2 separate regions of the Homo sapiens genome follow, and region 2 is linked to region 1. Evidence: fine-mapped expression QTL. A gene starts in region 1. The other region holds a variant in brackets. All regions are shown on one strand. Distances are between the middles of the regions.

Region 1 (9,491 bases):
TATATATGTGGTCTCATAACCTCATTAACAAAACACGTAACTATGTGAACAACATGAATATTCAAAAAATATCTAGATGCCATGCCCCGGAACTACGCAAAGGAGTCCCAGAGCCCTTCTCTAAAAAACTCAAAATCCAACTTACTTAGAAAACAAGATAGTATATTAAAAGGAGAATTGTAATTTAATGAAATACATTTATCAACCTGTCTCTGCTGACACAGGCATACGATTTAAAACAAGTTGCTCACTTTGTAGGACCATTTTCTTCAGTGCTAAAATAAGGCAAGACAGACAAAAATCTAAGAACACTCGGAAAGTCTTAAACACTCGGAACATTCAATTTTAAAGTTAATTACATACCTCTCCAAGCATATTGCTATACAAGACTTTAAAGACTTCATAAAAGCCAAACTTGCAGAGTCCCTGCATGGAGTAGCCAAGGAAAGTCGGAGCCCATCCTTTAGCCAAACCACGAACACCATCCTCTTTAAGTGTAACTGAGAATCCGTTAAATATGCCCTTGTACTTTTGGGGGTCCACCTTTATTTAAAACAAGAAAAAAAAAATTAAATGCACCAAACAGCTAACATAAAAATTTAATCTCATGATTATTTTTGTTTGGGTTCCATAATAAATTTCAGCAACTACACAAAAGGTAACTACAGTAATTCCTGCCAGGCACGGTGGCTCACATCTGTAATCCCAGCACTTTGGGAGGCTGAGGCAGGTGGATTACCTGAGCTCAGGAGTTCAAGACCAGCCTGGGCAACACAGTGAAACCCCATCTCTACTAAAATACAAAAAATTGGACGGGCATGGTGGCGTGCACCTGTAATCCCAGCTACTCGGGAGGGTGAGGGTGAGACAGAACAATCGCTTGAGCCTGAGGGAGGGAGGTGGAGGTTGCAGTGAGCCACGATGGCACCACTACACTCCAGCCTGGGCAGCAGAGCAAGACTCCATCTCAAAAAAAAAAAAAGAAATACAGTAGCTCTCCCTTATCCAAGAGTTCATTTTCTGTGGCTTCAGTTATCCAAGGTCAACTGACATCTGAAAATATTAAGATATTTTGAGTGAGGAACTACATTCATATAACTTTTATTAGTTTATGCTTATCACTGTTTATTATTGTTCATTTGATTACTTTTATAAATAGAAACTGTTGTACATTAAGGTCTAGCTTTCTGTGTCAAACCTAAGTCTTGGAGTGATAGTTAAGAGGGTAAAATTTCAACAAAAGCTTTCTGTGTCAAACTTAAGTCTTGGAGTGATAGTTAAGAGGGTAAAATTTCAACAAAAATACGTAACAAAACTGATTCTTAACAGATTTCTTACCACCCAACTCCTACTACTTTTTTTGTGTTTTTTGTTTGTTTGTTTTTTGAGTCTTGCTCTGTAGCCCAGGATGGAGTGCCATGGTGTGATCTCAGCTCACTGCAACCTCCACCTCCCAGGTTCAAGCGATTCTCCTGCCTCAGCCTCCCGAGTAGCTGCGACTACAGGCACGCCACCATGCCCAGCTAATTTTTGTATTTTTAGCAGAGATGAGGTTTCACCATGTTGGCTAGATTGAGTTCTGATCTCGAACTCCTGACCTCAAGTGACCCACCTGCTTCGGCTACCCAAAATGCTGGCATTCCAGGTGTGGGCGACCATGCTTGGCCCACCTCCTACTTTTTAAAAGCTACTGTCTAGATAATAGATATAACTGTATTCCTAACATATGCTAGTTCTTTAAGTAGCTTATAGCATAAAGTTTTGTGAACACTAAACAAACTAAACACAAGTTAAAAAAAAAAAGCACATAAACTAAATTCACTTCAAGAGACATGCATAACACGTTTTAGCAAAGGTACATTTCATATCCATTACATTAACTAATGGGGGGGGAGGAAAAGCTTATCTATTTCTGCCAGTACTAGAAGGGATGGTATACATCACCTTCCTCTCCCTCCTAATATTTCAAATTCATTTCTCTTTTAGGTAAGTAGACTTCTAATCCAGTTTGGAACAAATAAATTTTCGATGTCTTGTTTTTGTTTCAATGATCTTAATTAAAATATATTCAAATTATTTTAAAATGTTGTGTAAATAAACAAGAGGCTAATCTGACAAAATTTTCATACTAAGATATTAAGAGCACTTTAAATAAATCTACATGTACTCTTTGCCTTGGTCTTATTAGTAGATAAAGGACATTGTTACTTCACATAATACACAGACTTGTTTACCCACTCCAACACATAGGTGCTTGTTAAATGACTATTTGGGGCACTAGTAAGCTTGAAGAACTCCGGCCAGAAGTGAAGAGCAGCAGCAAAGAGCCATTTACAGCCAGACTCTAAAAGTGAACAATTTACTCAAACAATAGAGGCATTTATTGGATTTAAAACACTAGTCAAAATAAAGCCCACAATTTAAAGAAATTCTATGTGGTTTCCTACTGAAGTTTCTAGCAGTTGTGATGTCTTCAAATTCTCATTTAAGATTTTATTTAGAGTTAAGTCACATGAGAGATACTTTCAATGTTGTCATCTCAATACAAACCTGCATACGGCATTTCACTAAATCCAGGGGAACCACAGCAGTGTGTGTCAGACCACAACTTAAGACCCCACCAAAGCCACACAGTGCATAATACTTCGCGGAGCCAAATTCACAACTGTACTCTGTAGTAAGAGAAGACACACCATGCATTTTAATATAAAACTCATGTTACTGGTCATAAACTTACCTCCTGGACAGTTAGGTTTCCACACAGCTTGTTAGATGACTATATCTTATAACTTAACAGTCAGTCATGCTTCAATATGCTCTAGTCCAGCATGCAAAACAAACCTGCATTCTGCATTTAACCAGATCTAGAGGAACCAATGCTGTATGTGTTGTGCCACAGCTAATAATTCCTCCAAGTCCACAAAGGATAAAGAATCTGCCAGATCCATAGTCACAGCTATACTGCTCTGTTTGATTGGAAAAAAAAAAATCAAGTAAGTATTTCTTCAGAGATGACTAAGGCCACTGGAATGAAAGAAAATGTTTCCCTGTGAGATACTATTATCACAGCTGAATAGCTTTGGCCACAATTAAGTGGCTTAAAAAAAAATTCACTGCCAAATTCAGATCATTTAAAAATTATGAGGGTTCTGTATCTGATACTATTAATAGCTCGTATTCTGCCATATTAATTTTTTTAAAAGTTTTCTACATTAACGGCTTTTACAATTAAAGTCAAACTTCAAATTATTAACCACTGGTAAGAGCACACTTCAGAGTACAAACGAAACTCAGAAAGATCACTCGACATGTAAAAGGCTTGCAAACAACTTCAAAGTTTATCCCAGCCACTAACCAATACTATCCCCACTTAAGAACTCCTGTAACATAAAAACGGATACGCACAAATTCCTGCAGTCAAATACATTTAATACACAAATAATGTTAGCTTTAACTTTTAAACTGAACGACAGATAGTGTAAATAAGGACTCTATCCATACTAAAGACAACAGAAGCACATGAATGATTTAAAGAAAAAAATCTTTCGATTTTACAGGCACAAGGTAGATAACATTCTTAGGACTCCTACAATTCGGTTTTCAGGTTTCTCTGTATGTACATACTTCACTAGGATTTAAAACACACACAACTAAGTTAAAGCTGGGCCCAACCACCAAGAATCCCAAGAGATAATCACACCAAAGGGACGCCCACCAATTATCTCCTTTCTATTGCCTATGTAGGGCTGCAAGCTGCCTCCTCCAGTCGCACGAAAACAGGACATCTAGTTATCTCATATACAATTAAGTGCAAAAATGACTGACCTGGCGTCGACAAATATAAAACTTAGGAAAGGACTATTTTTAAGAAAACTAAGGGCAAATCAAAGGACAGGTAATATAGTTAGTAGAACTGTGGGTGGTCAGTAGTTTCGGGAGGAGAGTTTACCCAGTACTTAGTTTGCTGACCAAGCGAGCTCACGGCGGAGAAAGAGCTAGTCACGGCCTCTCTTCCCTCGGGCACACGGAGGTCACGAAGGGACACAGGGCCTCAGCGCTTCCACGCCCTTGAGGGAAGGCCAAGGATCTGACACCCGCCTATGGTGGAAAAGGCCGATACCCCAGGGCAAGCAACTGGGCGCCGTCCTACGGTGCAGCGGGCTGGACTCGTCCTTCCCTGTCCTCCAAGCCGGGTCCAGGCCTCAAAGGCTGGGCGGCCCACAAGTAGACCACACGACTGTATTGGGCAGGGTCTGATCTCACCTTCCACGGCGGCGGCTGCCAGGTTGCGAGGGCGGCGGGGCTGGCCCGTGGGCCCTGGGGAGCTGCTGCGGAGGTCCCCGAGACCATCGTGCACCAGCTGCAGATGTGGCGTGTTGAAGGGGTTCGCCCGCGCCAGGTGCGCCACGGACGAGAACATCTTTCTAGGGGAGGAGGGAGCGACGGTTAGAGGACAGGCAAGGCGCCGGTTAACGTTACCGGCGCCCTGGAACCCCAACCGGGGCCTTTTCCTTCCCGTCTCCACGCCCTTGAAGAGGTCACGGCGGCCTTCGAAAGAGGCTGCTCCCGGCTGGGCCCACCGCCAAAGCAGCGGCCCCACAGGAGCTCTGGGCTCCGCTCCCCACACCCGCCACAGGAGAAGGCCCGGCCACACTCACTCCCTAAGATGGCGATCACACAACCACTCCCTTGGAAAGGTTGCGGCTCACAGAGGCCGGACGTCCTCCGGGTCCTAAGATGTGTGCCCTTCGCGCGTCGTCGGCGTGACGCACACAGCGCGCCACTGCAAGTACGCGTCGCCCATTGGTGGAGAAGAGCGCCGAGCCCGTAGCGTCATCGCGTTCTCCTAGCAACCTTATTCCCGCCCCTGCCCGCCCCAGCTCTTCCGCCCGGCTTGTGCGCGGGAGGATTCGTTCTGCGCAGGCGCGCGTTCCGGGTCTATATTTTTTGAGAGGGGTCGGGCTCGAGCTCTTACCCTGCTCGCTTTGTCCCTTCACCTTCAGGTGTCTCTCCTTGACCACGGGCTTCAGTTCGCTTCACTTAAGTGAATCACAGTATCTAGTAGTCACTTAAAAAACAAAACAAAACGCGAATGCTTGATAATATATTTAGGTGTTGGAGTTACAACATCACTGCAGTACTTTGTGTCACAACTTCTGCCATTACAGTACTTTTTAAAATAAGTTCCATCCATTGACATTAAACATAGGTATGTCTGTATTTTTCATCAGACTCCTGGAGAATATTTTAAAAAGAAATGTGCAGCAAGAAGTCTTACGACAGCTTGCCGCGTTATCACAGTAATCTACAGAACACGTTGAAACATTGAACTCCTGAGATGTTACAGCGATGAACTACTGAAAGTGACTGATAGCAGATTGTGCGTGTGTGTGGTTAATACATTTAGGAAGCTTTCATTAGATTCAGCTCAACAGGGAGGGGCGTAGTTTAGTTGGGGAGAGTTTAATAGGGATTCAACCTGTTAGACTTCTGACTCTTATATTTTCCAAGCTCTTGACAAAGTAACCTTGGGAATTTACTTCATCTCTGTGTACCTGTTCCCTAGATGTAAGATAGGGGTGGGACTGGCCTCATAGGTTCACACTGGTACAGTCACACATGGCCTTACACTTCATTTAATGCTCTGCTGTCATTTTGATTTTTTTTTTTTTTCTTTTGAGATGGAGTCTTGCTCTGTCGCCCAGGCTGGAGTGCAGTGGGGCGATCTCAGCTCACCGCAACCTCCGCCTCCCGGGTTCAAGCGATTCTCCTGTCTCAGCCCCCGGAGTAGCTGGGACTACAGGCGTGCACAACCACGCCCGGCTAAGTTTTCTATTTTTAGTAGAGACAGAGTTTCGTCACGTTGGCCAGTCTGGTCTCGAACTCCTGAGCTCAGGTGATCCGCCCACCTCGGCCTCCCAATGTGCTGGGATTACAGGCCTGAGCCACCATGCCCGGCTTGAAATTCTTAATACATGTATGAACAAGGGGCCACGCTTTTTTTAGTTTGCACTGGACCCTGCAAATCAGGTGTCTGGTTCTGGATGGGAGTAATACTTACCTTGCAGAGTCTATGAGAACTCAATGAGATAATGTCTAAAAGTCTACAGAAGATGTTACCTAAAAAAAGTTAGCATTGGCCGGGCGAGGTGGCTCACGCCTGTAATCCCAGCACTTTGGGAGGCCGAGGCGGGCAGATCACGGGGTCAGGAGATCGAGACCATCCTGGCTAACACGGTGAAACCCCGTCTCTACTAAAAATACAAAAAATTAGCCGGGCGAGGTGGCGGGCGCCTGTAGTCCCAGCTACTGAGGAGACTGAGGCAGGAGAATGGCGTGAACCCAGGAGGCAGAGCTTGCAGTGAGCCGAGATCATGCCACTGCACTCCAGCCTGGGCGACAGAGCAAGACTCCGTCTCAAAAAAAAAAAAAAACAAAAAAACAAAAGTTAGCATTGAGGCTGCGGCATCACGGCACTCTCTAAGCAACCCTATCCCAGACCCAGCCCTTCTGGCCCAACTAAAGTCCTACAGTCCCAGGAAGAATTCCAGAGTGGAGGGCACAGGAAGGGAAGTAGTGACAGATAAAGTTAAAAAAGTACACTAGCACCTGATTGTCCAGGGCCTCACATACCAGACTGAGGAGTCTGATCTTATGTAGACAGAGGTAGTCACTGAAGGGTCTGGACTTTCTCTCTCTCTTTTTTGGTTAATTCAACTTTATGGTGCTTTTCTAATTTAAAAATCCTTTGTCATGAAAAAGTCAAATATTATGTAAAAATATATGACTGTAGTGAATCTTCCTATTCCCTTCCCCCAGCACCGGGTAATACCGTGACCCTTTGCTGCACATTTTTTCAGCTGGAACAGCTGGTACCCTTCACCATGGGGCTGCACATGCTCGTGGCCCAGAACTCACAGAAGTTGATCTAGAAGATACAGTGGTAACTGAAGGAGCTGCAGGCCCAGCTCCTACCCCATGTGGGAGCTGGTGACCTTCAGAATGTAATGACTGTTGCTCCACTTCTGCCTTCCAAACTGCACACATTTCTCTTATAGCTAGCCCTAACCCAAAACTATGCAGGGAAAGGAATCTAGGAAATGTGGTTCTAGCCTAGCTAAGTTGACATGGTAAAAAAAACACCACTGGGCTTTGCAGGCACCGCTGCTGCCAGGAGCCCTGTGCTATCAGCCATGGTCAACCCCACCGTGTTCTTTGACACGGAGCCCTTGGGCCGCATCTCCTTTGAGCTGTTTGCAGACAAGTTTCCAAAGACAGCAGGAAACTTTCATGCTCTGAGCACTGGAGAGAAAGGATTTGGCTATAAGGGTTCCTGCTTTCACAGAATTGTTCCAGGGTTTATGTGTCAGGGTGGAGACTTCACATGCCATGATGGCACTGGTGGCAAGTCCATCTACAGGGAGAAATTTGATGACAAGAACTTCATCCGGAAGCATACAGTTTCTGGCATCTTGTCCATGGCAAATGCTGGACCCAACGCAAACAGTTCCCAGTTTTTCATCTGTGCTGCCAAGACTGAGTGGTTGGATGGCAAGCATGTGGTCTTCAGCAAGGTGAAAGAAGGCATGAATATTGTGGAGACCATGGAGTGCTTTGGGTCCAGGAATGGCAAGACCAGTAAGAAGATCACCATTGCTGACTGTGGGCAACTCTAATAAGTTTGACTTGTGTTTTATCTTAACCACCAGACCATTCCTTCTGTAGCTCAGGAGAGCACCCTCCACCCCATTTGCTCGCAGTATCCTAGAATCTTTGTGCTCTCACTGCAGTTCCCTTTGGGTTCTATGTTTTCCTTGTTCCTTTCCATGCCTAGCTAGATTGCAGAGTTAAGTTTATGATTATGAAATAAAAACTAATTAACAACAGCAACAAAAAAAGTACCAGAGTCTATCGGTTGTCAACATGGCATCAATGAACACCTCTTGTAATCATATTTAACTTCCAGACAAAAACTAAAGAGCAAAATCAGACTTCTACCTAACATGAAGCAGCTGTCCCTTGGACAATTGTGAACAAGCTAATTCTACCCAAAAGAGGATACAAAATCCTTTTATCCGTCTTTAGGTGATGTTATTGCAGCAGGTATGGACTAAGACAAGGGGGTTGGCCTCCTTAACATTCAAGAGGCTCTCGGCCTCCAACCTGACACAAGTAGGGAAATTGCCTGAAGGACCATAACTCTCCACTGTGGAGATTCAAATCTGCCTCCCGGGTTCAAGCAATTCTCCTGCCTCAGCCTCCGGAGTAGCTGGGATTACAGGCACGCGCCACCATGCCCGGCTAATTTTGTATTTTTAGTAGAGATGGGGTTTCTCCATGTTGGTCAGTCTGGTCTCGAACTCCCAACCTCAGGTGATCCACCTGCCTCGGCCTCCCAAAGTGGACAGTAGGTTTTAAGAAGAATCAGCAGATCCCGCCAGGCAACCACCTCAGGTGAGGCCATTACAGATTTCACAGGGACGAGGAACATAACCTCCTCAGACAGGAGAGGAAGGGCTTCTTTGACTGACAAGGAGGCTCAACAGAATTTAGGGGTTCTGGCTGGGCATGGTGGCTCACGCCTATAATCCCAGAACTTTGGGAAGCCGAGGTAGGTGGATCTCTTGAGTCCAGGAGTTAAAAACCAGCCTGGACAACATGGTGAAACCCTGTCTCTTAAAAAAAAAAAAAAAAAAAAGCCAGGCATAGTGGCATGCCCCTGCAGTCCCAGCTACGCAAGAGGCTGAGGAGGGAGGATCACTTGAGCCTGGGAAGCAGAGGTAGCAGTGAGCCGAGATCGCGCCATTGTACTCCAGCCTAAGCAACAGTTAGAGATCTTGTCTCAAAAAAGAAAAAAAAAAAGAATATGGGGGTTCATGGTCCTAGTGGAATCATAATCTGCCCAGGTGTCACTATTCCAAAATTTTGGGTCTCAAAACATTGCCCTAACTTTAAACACTATGAGATTGGGAATTCAATTTGCATTGTAATTCAGAATTAGATTTTGAGTTTGATTTTTAGAAAGTACAGTCTTGCAGATACAGCAAAGCAGTCAAGGCGACCAGGTGCGGTGGCTCATGCCTGTAATCTCAGCACTTTGGGAGGCCAAGGTGGACGATCACAAGGTCAGGAGTTCAAGACCAGCCTGGCCAAGACGGTGAAACCCTGTCTCTACTAAAAATACAAAAATTAGCTGGGCGTGGTGGCGCGCGGCTGTGGTACCAGCTACTCAGGAGGCTGAGGCAGGAGAATCGCTTGAAGCCAGGAGGCTGGCAGAGGTTGCAGTGAGCCGAGATCACACTATCACACTCCAGCCTGGGCAACAGAGCGAGACTCCATCTCAAAAAACAAACAAAGCAGTCAAGGCTTTCTGGTCCTTTATCTGATGTTGAACTGAGAAGTTAAAGCCCTAAGTTATCATTTTCTTTCCCCCAGTTATCCAACATAATTAGAAGAAGCAAACCAATCCAAAGCATCTGCTTGGTCAACCC
Region 2 (9,249 bases), 37 kb before region 1:
CTGTAATCCTAGCACTTTGGGAGGCCAAGGCGGGCAGATCACTGGTCAGGAGTTCAAAACCAGCCTAGCCAACATGGTGAAACCCCATCTCTACTAAAAATATTAAAAAATTGGTGGGGCGTGGTGGCAGGTGCCTTTAATCCCAGCTACTTGGGAGGCTGAGGAGGAGAATCGCTTGAACCCAGGAGGCAAAGGTTGCAGTGAACCGAGATCGTGCCATTGCACTCCAGCCTGGGCAACAAGAGCAAAACTCCATCTAAAAAAAAAAAAAAATACCGGGCGTGGTGGCTCACGCCTGTAATCCCAGCACTTTGGGAGGCCAAGGCAGGTGGATCACAAGGTCAGGAGATCGAGAGCATCCTGGCTAACACAGTGAAACCCCGTCTTTACTAAAAATACAAAAAATTAGCCAGGCGTGGTGGCAGGCGCCTGTAGTCGTAGCTACTCGGGAGGCTGAGGCAGGAGAATAGCGTGAACCCAGGAGGCGGAGCTTGCAGTGAGCCTAGATCGCGCCACTGCACTCCAGCCTGGGCGACAGAGTGAGACTCCATCTCAAAAAAAAAAAAAAAAAGGCTAAAGACCACCTTTGGCAACATAGCGAGATGGACAGTCCTAGCTATTTGGGAGGTTGAAGTAAGAGGATCACTTGAGCCCAGGAGTTCAAGGCTGCAGTGAGCTATGATTGTGACACTGCATTCCAGCCTGGGTGACAGAGTGAGACCCTGTGTGAAAAAAAAAAAAAAAAAACCTACAGCTACCCATACCAGAATTTATGTTGTTCTTAACAGAAGTGGGTATAATTCTCCTTTGAAATTCGGATTTAAATGGATATGAATTGGAGAATAGTGATTTTTCTTTTCTTTTCCAGGTTTGTATTTCAGCAGTCAGAAAAATTTGCAAAGGTGGAAAACCAATACCAGTTACTGAAACTAGAAACCAATGAATTCCAACAACTTCAAAGTAAAATCAGTTTAATTTCAGAAAAGGTAATCATTAATTGGCTTATCTGGGACGGTTTTCCCATTTTACTACCCCACTATCATTTCTCTATCCCAGCTCAGAACTTCTTTCTTCCTGCCTTTTAGACCATCACTATTTTAACTCTCACTGATCTTCCTACCTCTTGACATTCTCCCTCTGAGCCATTTTGACTCAGATTGCATTTTGAGGGGCAAGGATTTTTTAATATGATAATTTCTAGTATTGAAAAAGACCAATTTGTTCATATTAGCATGATGTTAATTTTCTACTTAAGTGTCAGGTATCTAGAGCATTGAAAATATGGTTGATCATGTCTACAGCCATACCACCCTGAATGCGCTCGATCTCATCTGAAAATATGGTTGATCTTTGGACATAAAATTAGAATATGAATAGCACTTATTGGGAAAAGATCTATCCATTTTTTCCCTTACTTTTTGCTTTTTAAGGATATATGTACATGCATTTAAGAATGGCTAGCCTAGGCTGGGAGTAGTGGCTCATGCCTTTAATCCCAGCACTGTGGGAGGCTGAGCCAGGCAAATCACTTGAGGTCAGGAGTTAGGAGACCAGCCTGGCCAACATGGTGAAACCCCATCTCTAGTAAAAATACAAAAATTAGCTGGGCGTGGTGCACACGCCTGTAATCCCAGCTACTCGGGGGGCTGAGACAGAAGAATCTCTTGAACCTGGGAGGTGGAGGTTGCAGTGAGCCAAGATCACACCACTGCACTGTAGCCTGGGCTATAGAGCGAGGATCCGTCTCAAAAAAAAAAAAAAAAAAAAAAAAGAATTAAAAAAAAAAGAACGGCTAGCCTAAAAGTAACTATTTGTCCTGTAGCCAAATAAGAATTCCAATGAAAATTAAAATAATACCATGTCTATATTGTGTTCCTTCAAGTTGCTGATTTCTACCAGATGCGTTATTACTGTGATTCTTAGAAATGTGAGACAAATAAACATTTTTGTAACTCCCACACCTCTCAGGAGAAAGTCAAAGTCAGCTGTGATCAATAAGGCATCATGTAGGCCTATTCTGGGTACCAGGGACCAAGCTATCATTGGGAAATATGGCTTTTTGTTCATTTATTCATTCACTAAACCTTTGCTCATGTCACAAGGTAAGCAAGGACCTATGCTTGGCACCAGGGTGGGTAAGGATGTTGTAAAAATAGAGATGAAATGGAGCATCTAAGTCCCTGCAGCCCCATGCACAGGATGAGCATATAATCCTCCAGAAGAGAAAAGCCATGGAGGAAAATTAAGTATCCCTCACAAATGCCAGGGGATTCCATGGATGGTGAGTGTAAGGGATTTGGGGAAGGAGCTGCAAAGGAGTTGGTATTTTCACATAGGGCTCAAATTGGAATCTGAGCCAGGCGTAGTGGCTCATGCCTGTAATCCCAGCACTTTGGGAGGCCAAGGCAGGCGGATCACCTTGAGGTCAGGAGTTCGAGACCAGATTGGCCAACATGGCGAAACCCTGTCTCTACTAAAAATACAAAAATATTAGCTGAGCATGGTGGTTCATGCCTGTAATCCCAGCTACTTGGGAGGCTGATGTATGAGAATTGCTTGAACCTGGGAGGCAGAGGTTTCAGAAGTGAGCTGAGATCATACCACTGCACTCCAGCCTGGGCAACAGAGTGAGACTCTGTCCCAAAAAAAAAAAAAAAAAAATTGGAATCTGGTTGTAGCTGTTGGGGGAACTCTAACATACCATTAGAAGAAATCCCAGGGGCAAGAAACTTCATATATATATATATATATATATATATATATATATATTTTTTTTTTTTTTTTTTTTTTTTTTTTTTCAGATAGAGTCTCTCCCTGTCATCCCAGCTCTCACTCTGTCATCCAGGCTGGAGTGCAGTGTTGGAATAACAGCTCAACCTCCCAGGCTCAAGCACTCCTCCCAACTCAGCCTCCCAAGTAACTGGGACTAACAGGCACGCCACTGCACCCAGCTAATTTTTTTTTCTTTAATTTTTTGGAGAGACGGGGTCTTGCTACATTGCCCAGGCTGGTATCAAACTCCTGGCCTCAAATGACCTTTCTGCCTCTGCCTCCCAAAGAATTGATATTACAAGTGTGAGCCACTGTGCCTTGCCAAAACTTCACATATTTAATTAAAAGCTATTGAAGGCCGGACGCGGTGGCTCACGCCTGTAATCCCAGCACACTGGGAGGCCGAAGCAGGCAGATCACGAGGTCAGGAGTTTGAGATCAGCCTGGCCAACATGGTGAAACCCCATCTCTACTAAAAATACAAAAATTAGCTGGGCGTGGTGGCGGGCGCCTGTAATCCCAGCTACTCGGGAGGCTGAGGCAGGAGAATCACTTGAACCTGGGAGGTGGAGATTGCAGTGAGCTGAGATCACGCCATTGTGCTCCAGCCTGGGCAACAGAGTGAGACTCCATCTCAATAAATAAATAAATATAAATAAAAGCTATTGAAAACTTATTTTGAACAAGATTTCTCCTTTTTTTTTTTCTTTTTTTTTTTGTGGGGGAGGTCAGGGGTGGTACAGAGTTTCACTTTTCTCATCCAGGCTGGAGTACAATGGCTCGATCTTGTCTCACTGCAACCTCCGCCTCCCGGGTTCAAGTGATTCTCCTGCCTCAGCCTCCCGAGTAGCTGGGACTACAGGTGTGTACCACCACACCCGTCTAATTTTTGTATTTTTGGTAGAGACGGGGTTTCACCATGTTGGCCAGGCTGGGCACGGTGGTTCACACCTGTAATCCCAGCACTTTGAGGGGCCGAGGTGGGTGGATCACCTGAGGTCAGGAGTTCAAGACCAGCCTGGCCAACATGATGAAACCCCATCTCTACTAAAAACACAAAAATTAGCTGGGCATGGTAGCGTGTGTCTGTAGTCCCAGCTACTCAGGAGGCTGAGGCAGGAGAATCGCTTAAACCGGGGAGGCAGAGGTCACAGTGAGCCGAGATTGCACCACTGCACTCCAGCCTGGGCAACAAAGTGAGACTCCATCTCAAAAAAAAAGCTTTTGAAGCAGATTTTTAAAATATCATTATAGAATCCAAAAAATATTCAGTCTTGGCCAGGCGTGGTGGCTCACACCTGTAATCCCAGCACTTTGGGAGGCCAAGGCAGGTGGATCACCTGAGGTCAGAAGTTCAGGACCAGCCTGACCAACATGGAAAAACCCCATCTCTACTAAAAGTACAAAAAATTACCTGGGCATGATGGTGCATGCCTGTAATCCCAGCTACTCGGGAGGCTGAGGTAGGAGAATTACTTGAACCTGGGAGGTGGAGGTTGTGGTGAGCCGAGATCATGCCATTGCACTCCAGCCTGGGCAACAAGAGCGAAACTCCGTCTCAAAAAAAAAAATGAAAAGAAAAAAAAGAAATATTCAGTCTTTTCGTAGCTTTTTCTCCCATTCTGCCCTGGGAGTAATTTAATAAGAGGTCCCTTTTCACAAAGGTGGCCCTAAAGGGCAGCATAACCCAGATGGAGGGGAAAACAGCTAGACATGGACACCCATCCCAACTGTGTGACCTTAGACAAATCACTATAACTTATCTTCATCTCTATTTCATCATTTATTAAGTGAGAAATAATAAGATTTTTATAAAGATCAGATGAGATATACAGTAAGTCCTCAACGTCATCAATAGGTTCCTGGTCATCAATAGGTTCCTGGAAACTACGATTTTAAGTGAAGTGTATAATGAAACCAATTTTTTTCTCATCTACGTTGTAATGAAAGGACATCGAAACAACGTTGTTGGAGGAGCTGCTCTGAATAGTTCCACTTAAAGTCAGTTTCCAAGAACCTACCAATGACGTTAAGTGAGGACTTACTTTATATACAAATTCTTTGAAAACAATCAAGCACTAATAAAGTACTAGCTCTTTTTTTTTTTTTTTTTTTTTTTTTTTTTTTTTTTTTGCCCAGGCTCTTGTTGCCCAGGCTGGAGTGCAGTGGGGAGATCTGGTCACTGCAACCTCTGCCTCCTGGGTTCAAGCAATTCTCCTGCCTCAGCCTCCCAAGTAGCTGGGATTACAGGCATGTGCCAACATACCCGGCTAATTTTTTGTATTTTTAGTAGACATGGGGTTTCACTGTGTTAGCCAGGATGGTCTCAATCTCCCGACCTCAGGTGGTCCACCCGCCTCAGCCTCCCAAAGTGCTGGGATTACAGGTGTGAGCCACCGCACCTGGCCCTACTAGCTCTTTCTTTAAGAAAAAATGAGACCCGGT[G/A]TGGTGGCTTATGCCTGTAATCTCAGCACTTTGGGAAGCTAAGTTGGGAGCATCACTTGAGCCTGGCAGTTTGAGACCAGCCCAGGCAACATGGTGAGACCCCATCTCTACAAAAAAAATTTTTTTAGTAAATAAAAATGAAAAACGATTAGAATATGTTGGTGGCCCATAAATGCTAGCTACTGTGGCATACTAGTCACTAAATATTTGCAGATTAAATCTATAACATCTTGCACTTACTTGGGGTATACTGCTTTCAGATTATAGTGAGGCTCTGATGAACCTCCTAAACAGGACATTACCTTAGGTGAGGATAAGCTTGCCTCTTCAAAATACTGCTAATAAAACAACTAAACCTAACCATGTTAATGGTTAGTATTTCTCATAATTGATTTTAAAAGGAACTTGTATTATGGCTGTATGTGTACATTTAAAAGAGGTTTTTATTTCTTTGGATTTTTTTGTTTGTTTTCTTTAAATGTGTGTGTGTGTATGTATGTATGTTTGAGACAGGGTCTTGCCCGGTCACCAAGGATGGAATGCAGTGGCATGATCATAGCTCACTGCAACCCTGAACTCTTGGGCTCAAGGAATCCTCCCACCTCAGCCTCCCAAGTAGCTGGGACTACAGGCGCACACCACCATGCCCAACTAATTTTGTTTGTTTGTTTGTTTGTTTGTTTGTTTGATAGAGACAGGGTCTTGCTTTGTGCCCAGGCTGGTCTCAAACTCCTAGGCTCAAGCAGTCCTTCTGCCTTGGCATCCCAACATGTTGGGATTAAGGCGTAAGCCACCATGCCCAACCCTTAAAATAAATTTTAAACAACATTTCAGAGTGGTGTTAGTCATTCTTGTTGCATACTCTTTAAGTCTTGATTGGGGTGGACCTAGAAGGCTTAGGGTCATTCTTCCTAAGCATCAACAAACATATTCTTTGTACTCTGAGATGTAGGGATTACACAGAGGCATAAGACATGGTCTCTTCTCCTTTGAAATTTAGAAGCTTTCACATCTTCACCCTGCTAATTCATCAATCAGTCTGTTAATGATTCCAATTTTGGAGCCACTTCCAGGCCTTTTCGCATTGCCCTCCTAACTTTTTATCTCTCCTCAAAGCATCCATTGCCCCCTGTGCTAATTCTTTTGTGACGCTACTTATAATCTACTGTGATTTTTTTGGTTGCTAGTTTATCTCCTTTACTCCTCTTTAGAGCATACACTGCATCTTTTATCTCCATTTCCCTAGTACCTGATAATGGAACTACCTCACACAGGGTACTCAGTAGATCTTGTTGGGACTCTAGAATATATGATGTGGAAGATCTAAACACTGTCTCCCAATCAAATTGTGAAATCAAGGACTATGCTGTATTTGTCTCCACTGTCTCACACAAGGCTGGCACAGAGTGAACCCTCAAAATTTTTTAATTGTATGTGCTAAGAGGCAAATATGTGGCAAATATATGTGTAATAGGTGCTACAGGAATTCAGGTTGTCAGGGCTAGGGCTATGGAAGAAATGCTGCTCTGAGGAGCTGAGATCCGGTCTGAGCCTTGAAGTAAGGACAATGTAACTAAATAAAGAGGAGAGGAGGATAGCATAGGGAGAGGTTAGAGAATTTGAGACTTTATCCTAGAAGTATTAGGAAACATCAAAGGTTTTGTAACAGTGTACCATGATAGGCATACCAGTTTTTAAAAGCTTAGTCTAGTAGTAGTGTGTAGGCTAATTTAGAGAGCAAGCAACTGGAAGCAGATATTAGATATTACTTTTTCTAAAATACTTTCCTTCATCACTGAAGTCTAGGTTGGGTCTCCACCTGAGTGCTTCCATAGCTCTTCACCTGTCATAGTGCATATACACTTGTCTTTCTCGTCGATTAAACAAAGCTGCTTAAGGGCAGTATTTTGTATCTTGTTCAGTATTATGTCTTCAGCATAATGCTGCAAGCACATAATAAATTAATGATTATTTCTAGGCCTTCCTGTAGTCTCTAAAGCTGTTATCTAAGTGTAGACTAAAAGAGGTCAATGACTTGGCCTTCTATATTCCAGATACAGATTAGGAGGTGCCGGAGGCTTAGCATAATTTACAAATACTTAAAACACTTTACCATTCAATTTGACTTGTCTCACTAAACTGTTTTTTAATTCATTGTTGCCTTTGTATCTGTAAGACCTGATTCTAGTACTTTCTCTGCAAGAGGTTGGTCAAAAAAATTTTTTGGCAGAAACCCTTCCAGAATTATAGGATTTTAGGAAAGATATCAAATTGTATACAAAGTTGCAGTTTCTAAAAAGCCAAAAAACCATAAAAATGACATCGAGGGCTGGGCGCGGTGGCTCACGCCTGTAATCCCAGCACTTTGGGAGGCTGAGGTGGGCGGATCACGAGGTCAGGGGATCGAGACCATCCTCGCTGACACGGTGAAACCCCGTCTCTACTAAAAATACAAAAAATTAGCCGGGTGTGGTGGCGGGCGCCTGTAGTCCCAGCTACTCAGGAGGCTGAGGCAGGAGAATGGCTTGAACCTGGGAGGCGGAGCTTGCAGTGAGCCGAGATCACGCCACTGCACTCCAGCCTGGGCGACAGAGCGAGACTCCGTCTCAAAAAAAAAAAAAAAAAGAAAAAGAAAACTGACATCAAAGTTACTTACCATTAGAGTTAAAAGGAGGAAATTGCATCTATTTCAGGCACTTTAACATTACTTTTCTCTTGTATATGCTTCCATAGAAATGCTGAAATATCTAGGATTGTGTGTTCAGGTGTATTTTTTTTTTTTTTTAACATAGTGCTGGCCAGGCGCGGCAGCTCTCGCCTGTAATTCTAGTACTTTGGGAGGCCGAGGCAGACGGATCACTAAAGGTCAACAGTTCAAGACCAGCCTGGCCAGCATGGTGAAACCCCATCTCTACGAAAAATACAAAAATTAGCTAGGCATAGTGGCGCGTACCTGTAATCCCAGCTACTCAGGAAGCTGAGGCAAGAGAATACGTTGAACCTGGGAGGCGGAGGTTGCAGTGAGCTGAGGTTGCTCCACTGCACTCCATCCTGGGTGACAGGGTGAGATTCCGTCTAAAAAATAAATAAATAAATAAAACAATGCAGGGTTAACGTATTTGTGAAAACTATTAATGTAATAAATATCTTTGTCAGTCTGATTCTGATATACTTGGATATTTTAGACATCTTCAGAATTTTAACGTGGCATGTGTTATGCTCCTGATTGTTAAAGTGTGTTTCTCTAATATGAAAATTATTAAGTAGCCTTGGGAATTGTTTTGTGTTATAAATGCAGCTTGAGTCTACTGAAAGCATCCTGCAGGAAGCTACATCATCCATGTCTTTGATGACCCAGTTTGAGCAGGAAGTATCCAACCTCCAAGATATCATGCATGACATTCAAAATAATGAAGAGGTGCTCACTCAAAGGATGCAAAGCCTTAATGAGAAATTTCAGAATATTACGGATTTCTGGAAGAGAAGCCTAGAAGAAATGAACATTAATACAGACATTTTCAAATCAGAAGCAAAACATATACATTCTCAAGTAACTGTCCAAATTAACTCAGCTGAGCAGGAAATAAAATTGCTCACTGAACGGCTAAAAGATTTGGAAGATAGCACACTAAGAAATATTAGAACAGTAAAAAGACAAGAAGAAGAAGATCTCCTGCGAGTAGAGGAGCAGCTAGGCTCTGATACAAAGGCAATTGAAAAGTTAGAAGAGGAACAGCATGCCCTCTTTGCCAGAGATGAAGATCTGACTAATAAACTTTCCGACTACGAACCCAAAGTTGAAGAATGCAAGACACATTTGCCAACAATTGAAAGTGCTATTCACTCTGTTCTCAGAGTCTCTCAGGATCTGATAGAAACAGAAAAGAAAATGGAAGACTTGACTATGCAGATGTTTAATATGGAAGATGATATGCTGAAAGCAGTGTCTGAAATAATGGAGATGCAGAAAACCCTTGAAGGAATTCAGTATGATAATAGCATATTAAAGATGCAAAATGAACTGGATATTCT

The links.
Region 2: its variant is fine-mapped to the expression of SLC25A3 in whole blood (TOPMed, PIP above 0.99).

Annotation. Positions count from the first base shown.
Region 1 is chr12:98,588,908-98,598,398 of GRCh38, reverse strand. SLC25A3 (solute carrier family 25 member 3) reads right to left here and starts at 4,713. Exons shown (of 8, transcript NM_002635.4): 1 at 4,659-4,713; 2 at 4,264-4,424; 3 at 2,551-2,672; 4 at 364-543. The coding sequence starts at 4,420. It also overlaps the pseudogene PPIAP8. RefSeq lists enhancers at 2,696-2,925, 3,674-4,298, 4,622-4,721, 4,299-4,923, 4,972-5,191.
Region 2 is chr12:98,626,033-98,635,281 of GRCh38, reverse strand. IKBIP (IKBKB interacting protein) reads left to right here. Exons shown (of 3, transcript NM_153687.4): 2 at 869-986; 3 at 8,516-9,249. Among named protein-coding and RNA genes, the nearest start is that of IKBIP, 14 kb to the left of the region's middle. The variant G/A (reference allele first, on the strand shown) is at 5,218.